Regions from separate parts of the Homo sapiens genome. Here region 1 is linked to region 2. A link means that fine-mapping ties the variant in region 2 to the expression of a gene that starts in the linked region. Tissue or cell type: tibial nerve. Region 2 holds a variant in brackets; the other region holds the start of a gene. All regions are shown on one strand. Distances are between the middles of the regions.

What was found. PIP is the estimated chance that this variant, and not a neighbour inherited with it, causes the effect.
Region 1: TOX2 starts here. The variant in region 2 is fine-mapped to the expression of TOX2 in tibial nerve (GTEx, PIP 0.93).

What each region holds. Positions count from the first base shown.
Region 1 is chr20:43,912,704-43,916,928 of GRCh38, reverse strand. TOX2 (TOX high mobility group box family member 2) reads right to left here and starts at 2,077. Exons shown (of 9, transcript NM_001098797.2): 1 at 1,939-2,077. The coding sequence starts at 2,037. RefSeq lists silencers at 597-646, 707-766, 1,837-1,926, 1,977-2,086, 2,107-2,206 and 1 more and enhancers at 905-1,622, 1,623-2,340.
Region 2 is chr20:43,976,794-43,981,018 of GRCh38, reverse strand. All of the region lies in intron 2 of TOX2 (TOX high mobility group box family member 2), which reads right to left. Among named protein-coding and RNA genes, the nearest start is that of TOX2, 64 kb to the right of the region's middle. The variant T/AT (reference allele first, on the strand shown) is at 2,283.

The DNA.
Region 1 (4,225 bases), 64 kb after region 2:
GTGCTGAGTCAGAGGTTTACAGAGCATCAGAATAAAGCAGGGGCCTCGGCTGAGTCCTGCCTCCAAAGGCCCCTATTTGGGACAGCCCCACCCTGGCGAGATTTATAGAAACACCACCCTCAAACGGAGCGCTCCAGGCTAAACCCCCACCCACTCAGACTTTGAGGCACAAATGCCCAGCCCACCCACACCCGCAAACCAGAGGCTGGTACCTACCTCGCCAACTTCACATTTTGAAAAATAACAAAGCCAAGGGCAGAAGACAGACCAGCTGCCCCCACACCCAACCTTCTCCTCCCTGAAAACTCCACTTGCTACTTTTAATCTATTTTCCTCCATCAGACTGGAGGCAGCTCCCGGCCTTCTCCTGAGGCTACCATCCCCCCTCATCGGCTTCTAACTTTGCAGGTCACTGGACAAAAGAGAACCACCGCCACTCTTCGCGAGACCTCACTTGTCGCCCACCACCGCCCCACATCGCGCAGGCCCTAGTGGCCTGGATGCTTGCTGCCCCTGGCGAACTGCAGGGAGGCTTTGCCAGAAGCCGCTCCCCTGGGGCCTGAGGGCGCACTCAGGGAGGCCCAGCCCGGGAGGCCCCGGGATCCGCGCCGGGACGCCTCTCTCCTGCCTCATCCCCACTACCAGGGGCCTGACGAAAAGCCTGCGAGGTTGGGGAGAGACCCTGGGGGGCGCCGATCCAGCCACTGGACGCGCACTCACCCCGCATCGCCACGGAGCCCACGCGTCTGCGCCAGGGCTGCGGGAAACCCACGCGCGCTGTTCAATCCGGGCTCCGAGTGACGAAAACCCGCGCTTGGCTCCAGCCGGCCCGGGACCGACGCACCGACTGGCGGACGCGCGGACAGTCTGGCTTCCTAACTAAGTTTGAAAGTTCCCTCTCCGGCGACCGAAGGGGACGCGGACTGCTTAGAGGCACCCAACCCATCCAGGCTGGGCCAGACCCGGCAGTGGGACCTGACGCCTCGGGTTCGGGGTTCCAGGCACGCAAGCCTCCATCACTGGGAATGCGCCCGGCGCAGCGCAGCTGGGACCTGGCTGGGGTGGGGGGATAGATCCTGGAAACATGGAGGAGGGAGGGTGTCCGGCACTACAGCCCCAGCCTGGAGGGACGCCGGCTCACCGCTCCCGGGAGGACACAGGCCTCGATTGGCCGCAGCCTACTCGGAATCCGAGGCCCCGCCAGGCAGTGACGGCCAATTAGTAAACTGCCCAATTAGTGTGCTGCGGCGCTGAGAAGTTAAACCTCGACGCGCGAGTGTGGATGACCGAGGTGTGGCCGTCCCTGGGTGTGACCGCGTGTGACTGTGTGGCCGTCAGGACGATCTGTGTCTGAGGCTCACCGTCCAGGGGGGTGGCTGTGTGTGACAGCGTGCGCCTGGGTGAGGCGTTGTGGCTGCGAGAGTGTGACTGTCGGGCGACTTCTTTGTGTGACTGTCCCCCGTTGTGCCTGGGTGTGACAGCGGGTGGGGGCATGTCACGGTGTGTGGGGCATCGGAGCGTCTGTGGGTGACTCGTCTGTGGCGGTGAGGCTGTTTGCGGGTGAGTGGTTGCGTGTCGTTGTGTATAAGTGACTGTCAGGGTGACTTGCGTGGGACGGCGGGACCGTGTAAGCAGTGCCTGGCCGCCTGCGTGTGGCTGTGGGTCACTGTGACGGCTTGTGAATGACTGCGAGGCTGTCAGGGGGACGCGAGTGAGGGGCCACTGTGTCGTCGCACGGGTGGCTGTCGGGATGACTTCTGCCCGCGATCCCAACAACTCAGGGCGTGAGCGTGGCCGCGAGGGGATCGATGTGAGCCGCCCGTGCCCGTCGGCGGGGCTGATGTGCGCGGCCCCGTGTGACCCCGGGAGCGCCTGAGTCCCGAGCTGCCAGGTGACTCCGGCCCCGCCCGCCGGGGACCCCCGCCCGCCCCCGCCTACCTTGCCGCCGTGGTAATAGTCCAGGTGCGCCAGGCCGGCCGGCTCGGCCCCGGGCCGCGCGCCCACCGCGGGCGCCGAGGGGTACAGGCGGACGTCCATGGCGGGCGCGGCGGCGGCGGCGGCGGCTCCCGCGGGCAGTGCCTGGGCGGGCGGCGGGTGGGAGCCAGTGTGCGAGCGGGACTGCGAGCGCGGGGGGCGGGCCGGGGGCGGTGCCCAGAGGAGCGCCCCGCCCCCGCCCCCGCCCCGCCCGCGCGCGCTATTGTTCCGGCCTCGGGCGCTGCCTAGGGCCGGGGGCCCGGGGGCCCGGGCCGGGGCGTGGAGGTCCTTCCTCCGGGCTGGGCCGCCGCCGGGTCCCCCGCCCGGCCCTGCATCCCTGAGGGGGGCGCGCCTGTCCAGACGGCGCTTTTCCGTCCCGCCTTTCGCCACCCACGGTGAGGAGAGAAGCCCGAACGGCACCCCTCCCCAGAAGTGGGACACTCCCTTGCCCTAAATATTTGAGGCGGCGCTAGTCCCCGCCCCGCGGCGTGGGTGCGGGGGGAAGAGGAAGGTGGTGACAGGACCACTTTGGAGATGGGTGCTGCCTTACCTGGGGGGACGCAGGCCAGCGCCGGAGGATGCTCTTAGCATGCCCGCCCCCTCCTCGTCTCACTGATCTGAGTCAGCTTGACAGCCCCCCCTGGAGATTGCCGCGCTTAAACTCTCACTCACATATGGGGAAACTGAGTCAAAAACTTGCAGCATCAGTAATGGAGCTCCAGGCGGGTGGGCTCCGTTGCCCCCAAAGGATCCAGAGCTGAAACCACTTGGAGAAGGCAGCAGGACCCCACCCCTTTTAATGATAGGGAGGGGAGGGCCGCAGGAATGCCTAGAGCCCGAAGCTCTGAAGAGGGGTCTAGGATCTGCCCACAGTCACGGTCTCTTGGAGTGAGGAAAGGAAGAAAATGAGATTGGAATGGGATGGCTCTGATGGTGGGTCAGAAAGGTGACTGTGAAATGGGGTTCCTCCCCAACCAAAAAAAAAAAAAAAACCCTCTAGTTCTTGATATCACTTGCTGGTTGCTAGACTGTTGCACCCCCATCCCCCTTTTCATGCAAGAATTGTCTACACTAGCAATCTCCCCTAGCAATCTCACTGCTCACTGACTGCTCCAGGTATGTCTGACTGGGAGAGGCCAGGAGGCGAAGTCAGCCAGAATGGCATTCTTGTGTGGCACCAGGATATAGGATGCCATTGGGAGAAAAGGACTTGAGCTTCCTGCCCACTCAGGAGCTAGCTTAGAACTTAGTTCTCAACTGCTGCTTGGGCTTTGCTGGTCCTGGCCTAGAACTAGGACCATAAGAAAGATGCATTAACAAAAGATAGGTGTGGGAAACAGGCATTCACTGAAGGCTTGGGAACAACAGAGGGAAATTATAGCTCAGAAAGGAAAGAACTTCCAAATAAATTTCAGCAGTCATTGTTTCTAGAAATACAATGCCACACCTCATCAGAAAAAAATTTCCATTGTCCTGTGTCCATTTTTTTCATCTGGATATCCAACTGACCAGCACTCTTTATTGAAAAGATCACCACCACCACCACCACCCCCCTACACACACACACATACTCTTCTGCAATGCTAACATTGTCGTAAATCAAGTAGTCGATATGTGCATAAGACTGTTCCTGAATTCTCTATTCTGTTCTGTTAGCCTATTTTTCTCTCCCTGTGCCATTATCACAATGTCTGGATTACTGTGGGCTTATAAGTCTAAATGTCCCATGAAATAAGCCTACCCATTTTGTTCTTTTAAGACTGCATTGGCTATTCTTGATGTTTACACTTTCACAGAAATTTTGGAATCAGCATACCTATTTATATATATACACACAAACACACTAACACAATCTTGCTGGGATTTCAATTGGTATCACTTTGAACCTTTAGATCAATTGGAATAAAATTAACATTTTCAATAGTAAAACTTCTTATCCATGAACATGGTATGTCCCTTCATTTATTTTGGGTTTTTAAAAAAGTTATCTCAGCAATGTTTTGTAGTTTTCTACGTGGAGACCTTGCACATCTTTTATTAAATTTAGCCCCGGGTGTTTTTTGTTGCTATTATGAATGGCTTCTTTATTTTATTTTCTGTTTGTTGTCAGTACAGGGTTGTTGTTTTACAACATGTCCACAAATTCTTTGACACCTTTCCCAAGAAGTAGAGTCTAACACTCTTCCCCTCGGGAAGGGATTAGTCTTAGCGAATGGGTTTTAACAAAAAGAATGTGACAGAAGTGAATCTA
Region 2 (4,225 bases):
TTTCTACCAGGGTTTTGAACTGATCTCTAGCAAGTCTTCATGTATAAGGGTGATTAGTTCTTCAACTATGGTGTAAGTTGAAAATATTCTTGCCCAACTTTTGTCTACTGACTTTACTTATGCTGGTTTGGCCATACAAAAGTCATATGTTGATTTTATGTTAATTTTTATATTTATATTAATTTAGTTTTATGTTAATTTATGGTCCAATTTTAAGTCTTTTCTTCTGAGGCTTTAAATAGTAGAAATGCCTTCCCCACACCAAACTTGTAAAGTATACCTTAAGGTTTGTTTTGCTGGTGCCTTTATGGTTCCCTTGAGTATGTTTAAATGTTTGATTTAACATTTATCAAATCATTTTTTATTTTTAATTTTTGTGTGTACATAGGTGTACATATTTATAGAGTACATGAGACATTTTGATACAGGCATGCAATAAGTAATAATTACATCATGGAGAATGGGTTATCCATTCCCTTAAGCATTTATCCTTGTGTCACAAACAACCCAATTATACTCTTTCAGTTATTTTAAAATACGCAATTATTGACTATACTTTGTTGTACTATCAAACATTAAATCTTATTCATTCTATTTTGTACACATTAATCATCCCCATGTCCCCCCTCTGCCCCACTACCCTTCCCAGCCTCTGGTAACCATCCTTCTACTCCCTATCTCCATGGGTTCATTGTCTTGATTTTTAGACCCCACAGATAAGTGAGAACATGCAATGTTTATCTTTCTGTGCCTGGCTTATTTCACTTAACATGATGATCTCTAGTTCCATCCATGTTGTTGCAAATGGATCTCATTCTCTTTGTATGGCTGAATAATACTCCATTGTGTATAAATACCACATTCTCTTTACCCATTCATCTGTTGATGGACACTTAGGTTTCTTCCAAGTTTTAGCTTTGTGAACAGTGCTGCAACAAACATGGAAGTGCCGATATCTTCAATATACTGATTTCCTTTCTTTGGGGTATATACCCAGCAGTTGGATTGCTGGATCATATGGTAGCTCTATTTTTAGTTTTTTGAGGAACCTCCAAACTGTTCTCCACAGTAGTTATACTATTTTACATTCCCACCAACAGTGTACGAGGGTTCCCTTTTCTCCATATCCTCACCAGCATTCGTTATTGCCTGTCTTTTGAATATAAGCCATTTTAACTGGGTGAGATCACATTTCATTGTAGTTTTGATTTGCATTTCTCTGATTGTCAGTGATATTGAGCAACTTTTCATATGCCTCTTTGCCATTGCAGGTCTTCTTTTAAGAAATGTCTATTCAAATCTTTGGCCCATTTTTTAATTGGATTACGAGATTTTTTTTCCTATAGAGTCATTTGAGCTCCTTATATATCCTGATTACTAATCTCATCAGGTAGTTTGCAAATACTTTCTCCCATTCTGTGGGCTGTCTCTTCACTTTGTTGATTGTTTCCTTTGCTGTACAGAAGTGTTTTAACTTGATGTGATCCCATTATCAAAGGATTTTATTTATCCTTTGATAAATTTTAAGGAACTGTGGATCCAACATCCTTTTCACCTAGATCCCCTCTCTTCTTGAATTACTCTGCCCGTGGTTTCTAAGACTCCAAGTTCTCCTCCTACTTCTCAAACCACTCCTTCTTAATCTATTTCACAGTCTTCTCCTCCTCTACTTTGCCTTCAAATGTTGGAGCTCAACATCTCAGAGTCATTGGTCCTCTGCTCTTCTCGTTCTTCCCTCTCTCCATAAATCTCCTTCACTCCCAAGGTTTTGATATCATGGGCTGAAGATTTCCAAATTTACTTCTCTTATGAGCTCAAGATTTGTACCATCATCTATCTACTTGAACATCTCCATGTGGATGAGCATCTCAAATATAACACATCCAAGTCTGGCATCATCAAACCTGCAAATCCCCAGGGTTTCCCCAACTCAGAAAATGGTACCACCATGCCTGAAAATGGGCTCATGGTAGAAGCCTAGGAGTCATCCTTTACCCCTCCGTTTCTCTCTCCCTCTATGTCCATCACTGTCAAGACCCACTAACTTTATCTCCAATGCATCTACTTCTTTCCATCCCCTCTGCCACAATCTAGATCTTGATCCTTTACTTGGCCTATTACCAACCCTCTCAACTTGGTCTCCCTGTATTCATTCTTGTCATTGAGAGCTTTTAAGACTGCAAATCTGATGTCATTCATGTCATTCAGTCTGACTCTAATACACACACACACACACACACACACACACACACACAAGTTCTTTCAATAATTCCTGTAAAAAA[T/AT]GTGAGCTCTTTAGCAGAAGTGGTATTTAGAGCTAAGAGAGTGGAAAACTCTACACACAGCCAGGAAGGCTGTGATGAGGAGGTGACATTTGCAGTGCCCCTGAAGGAACAAATAGGCATTTGTTGGTTGAAAAACACTAGGGGATTCCCATCAGAGGAAACAATGCATACAAAAACACCAAGTTGTAAATGAGCGCAAGAGGTGAACAGAAGCTCTTGTGTGACCAAAGCATTATATATGGTAAAAAATAATAAGTCATAGCTAGTTTTTCTGACTCTGGTTCTTTACATACTCTTAGTTTAGCTTCCTCTGAAGTACAGCCTGAGATGGGGATGCCTGTGAAAGTGACTTGAAGAGGGCTCTTAGAAGAAGGGCGGGAGGGAGGCAGGACATGACAGGGGAGGAGCTGAGTAAAGATTTGGCCTTGGTGGCTGGAGTCTGGCTGGATTAGCTGGAGCCCATGAGGAGTTGCAGAGTTGGTCACTCCTTGAGATAAGGATATCGGTTTCTAGACCTCCCCTTCTATCCTCTCCTGGGTTCACAGTTCCAATTTTCCAAAGAAAGAGTAGCTGTGAATAGTTAGCAGCCAACACTCACAGCAGCTGAATGATGAGCAGGACTCTGGTGAGGCAGCAACAGAATCCACAATACACACACACCTCATTTACTTCTCATGACACTCTAGGAGGCAGACGCTGCTACTCCTCCCATTTGATAGGAAGCTGCTATCACTTGCATAAGGAAATCTGGCCCATGCTGAGGCATGGAGGAGCTGGAATTTGAATCCAGGTCTGCTGAGTCCCAAGCCCACTTCCCTTTCCTCCTCACCTCGTCCCAGGAAGGAGGAGACTCTTTCTGGGTCACATCATCAGGAAATATCCATTTCTGTAACTCCTGGACAGAGTCTGCTCTCAACAGGAAAGAACTGACCTCTACCAGGTCCTCTACCCCCCTGGAGCTGCTGATGGGGACACAGCCCTATCTGAGAATTATATCTCATTCTCAGGCCACCCCGGCAAGTCTGGTACAAAAGTAACCCAAGGTCCAAGGAGGGAGAGGGAGTGTGATCATTTGTAGAAGCTAAAGCAGCTATGGGAAAATTTATGTGGAGTCTTGCAAAAACCAAACAATGGAGAATGTATTTGCAAAAAAAAACACTTCAAGCCCGTAGAGCGGCGGTGAAAGTTTTCAAAAAGGGACACAGTCAGCTAATACATACCCTAGGGGAACCTCTGTCTCAGCTGCGGTTTCTAAGTAAAGAAGATGGCATCTCAGGAGAAGTGTTACATTAAAGAACAAATTTGTAATACGATTTGAATGTTCTGGGCCAGACATAGTGACTCACGCCTGTAATCCCACCACTTTGGGAGGCCGAGGTGGGCGGATCACTTAAGGTCAGGAGTTCAAGACCAGCCTGGCCAACATGGTGAAACCCTGTCTCAACTAAAAATACACACACACACAAATCAGCTGGGTGTGGTGGCAGGCACCTGTAATCCCAGCTACTCGGGAGGCTGAGGCTGGAGAATCACTTGAACCCAGGAGGTGGAGGTTGCAGTGAGCCGAGATCAAGCTACTGCACTCCAGCCTGGGTGACAGTGAGACTCCATCTCAAAAATATATACATATATTGATTGGATGTTCTGGAAGCAAATGTTTTCCAGAAATGGCTTCCCACTGATATTCACAGCCTTGCATATAACAGGTGTCCAATAAACATTTGCTGATTGGGTGAACCTTGTATTTAACTGTATTTATAAAACATATTTTAAGCCATTTAGAGTGTTTATCCTCTGAATCCTCTAGTGGCTGTGAGGGCTTCATTTTACCCAAATGTTGATGTCAATCCTTAATCCAGTAATTTGGACAATACAATTCTTGCAGTTGATGAGACAACACATTGTGAGAGGGTGTTCACGTGTATGTGTGTATGTGTGTGTGT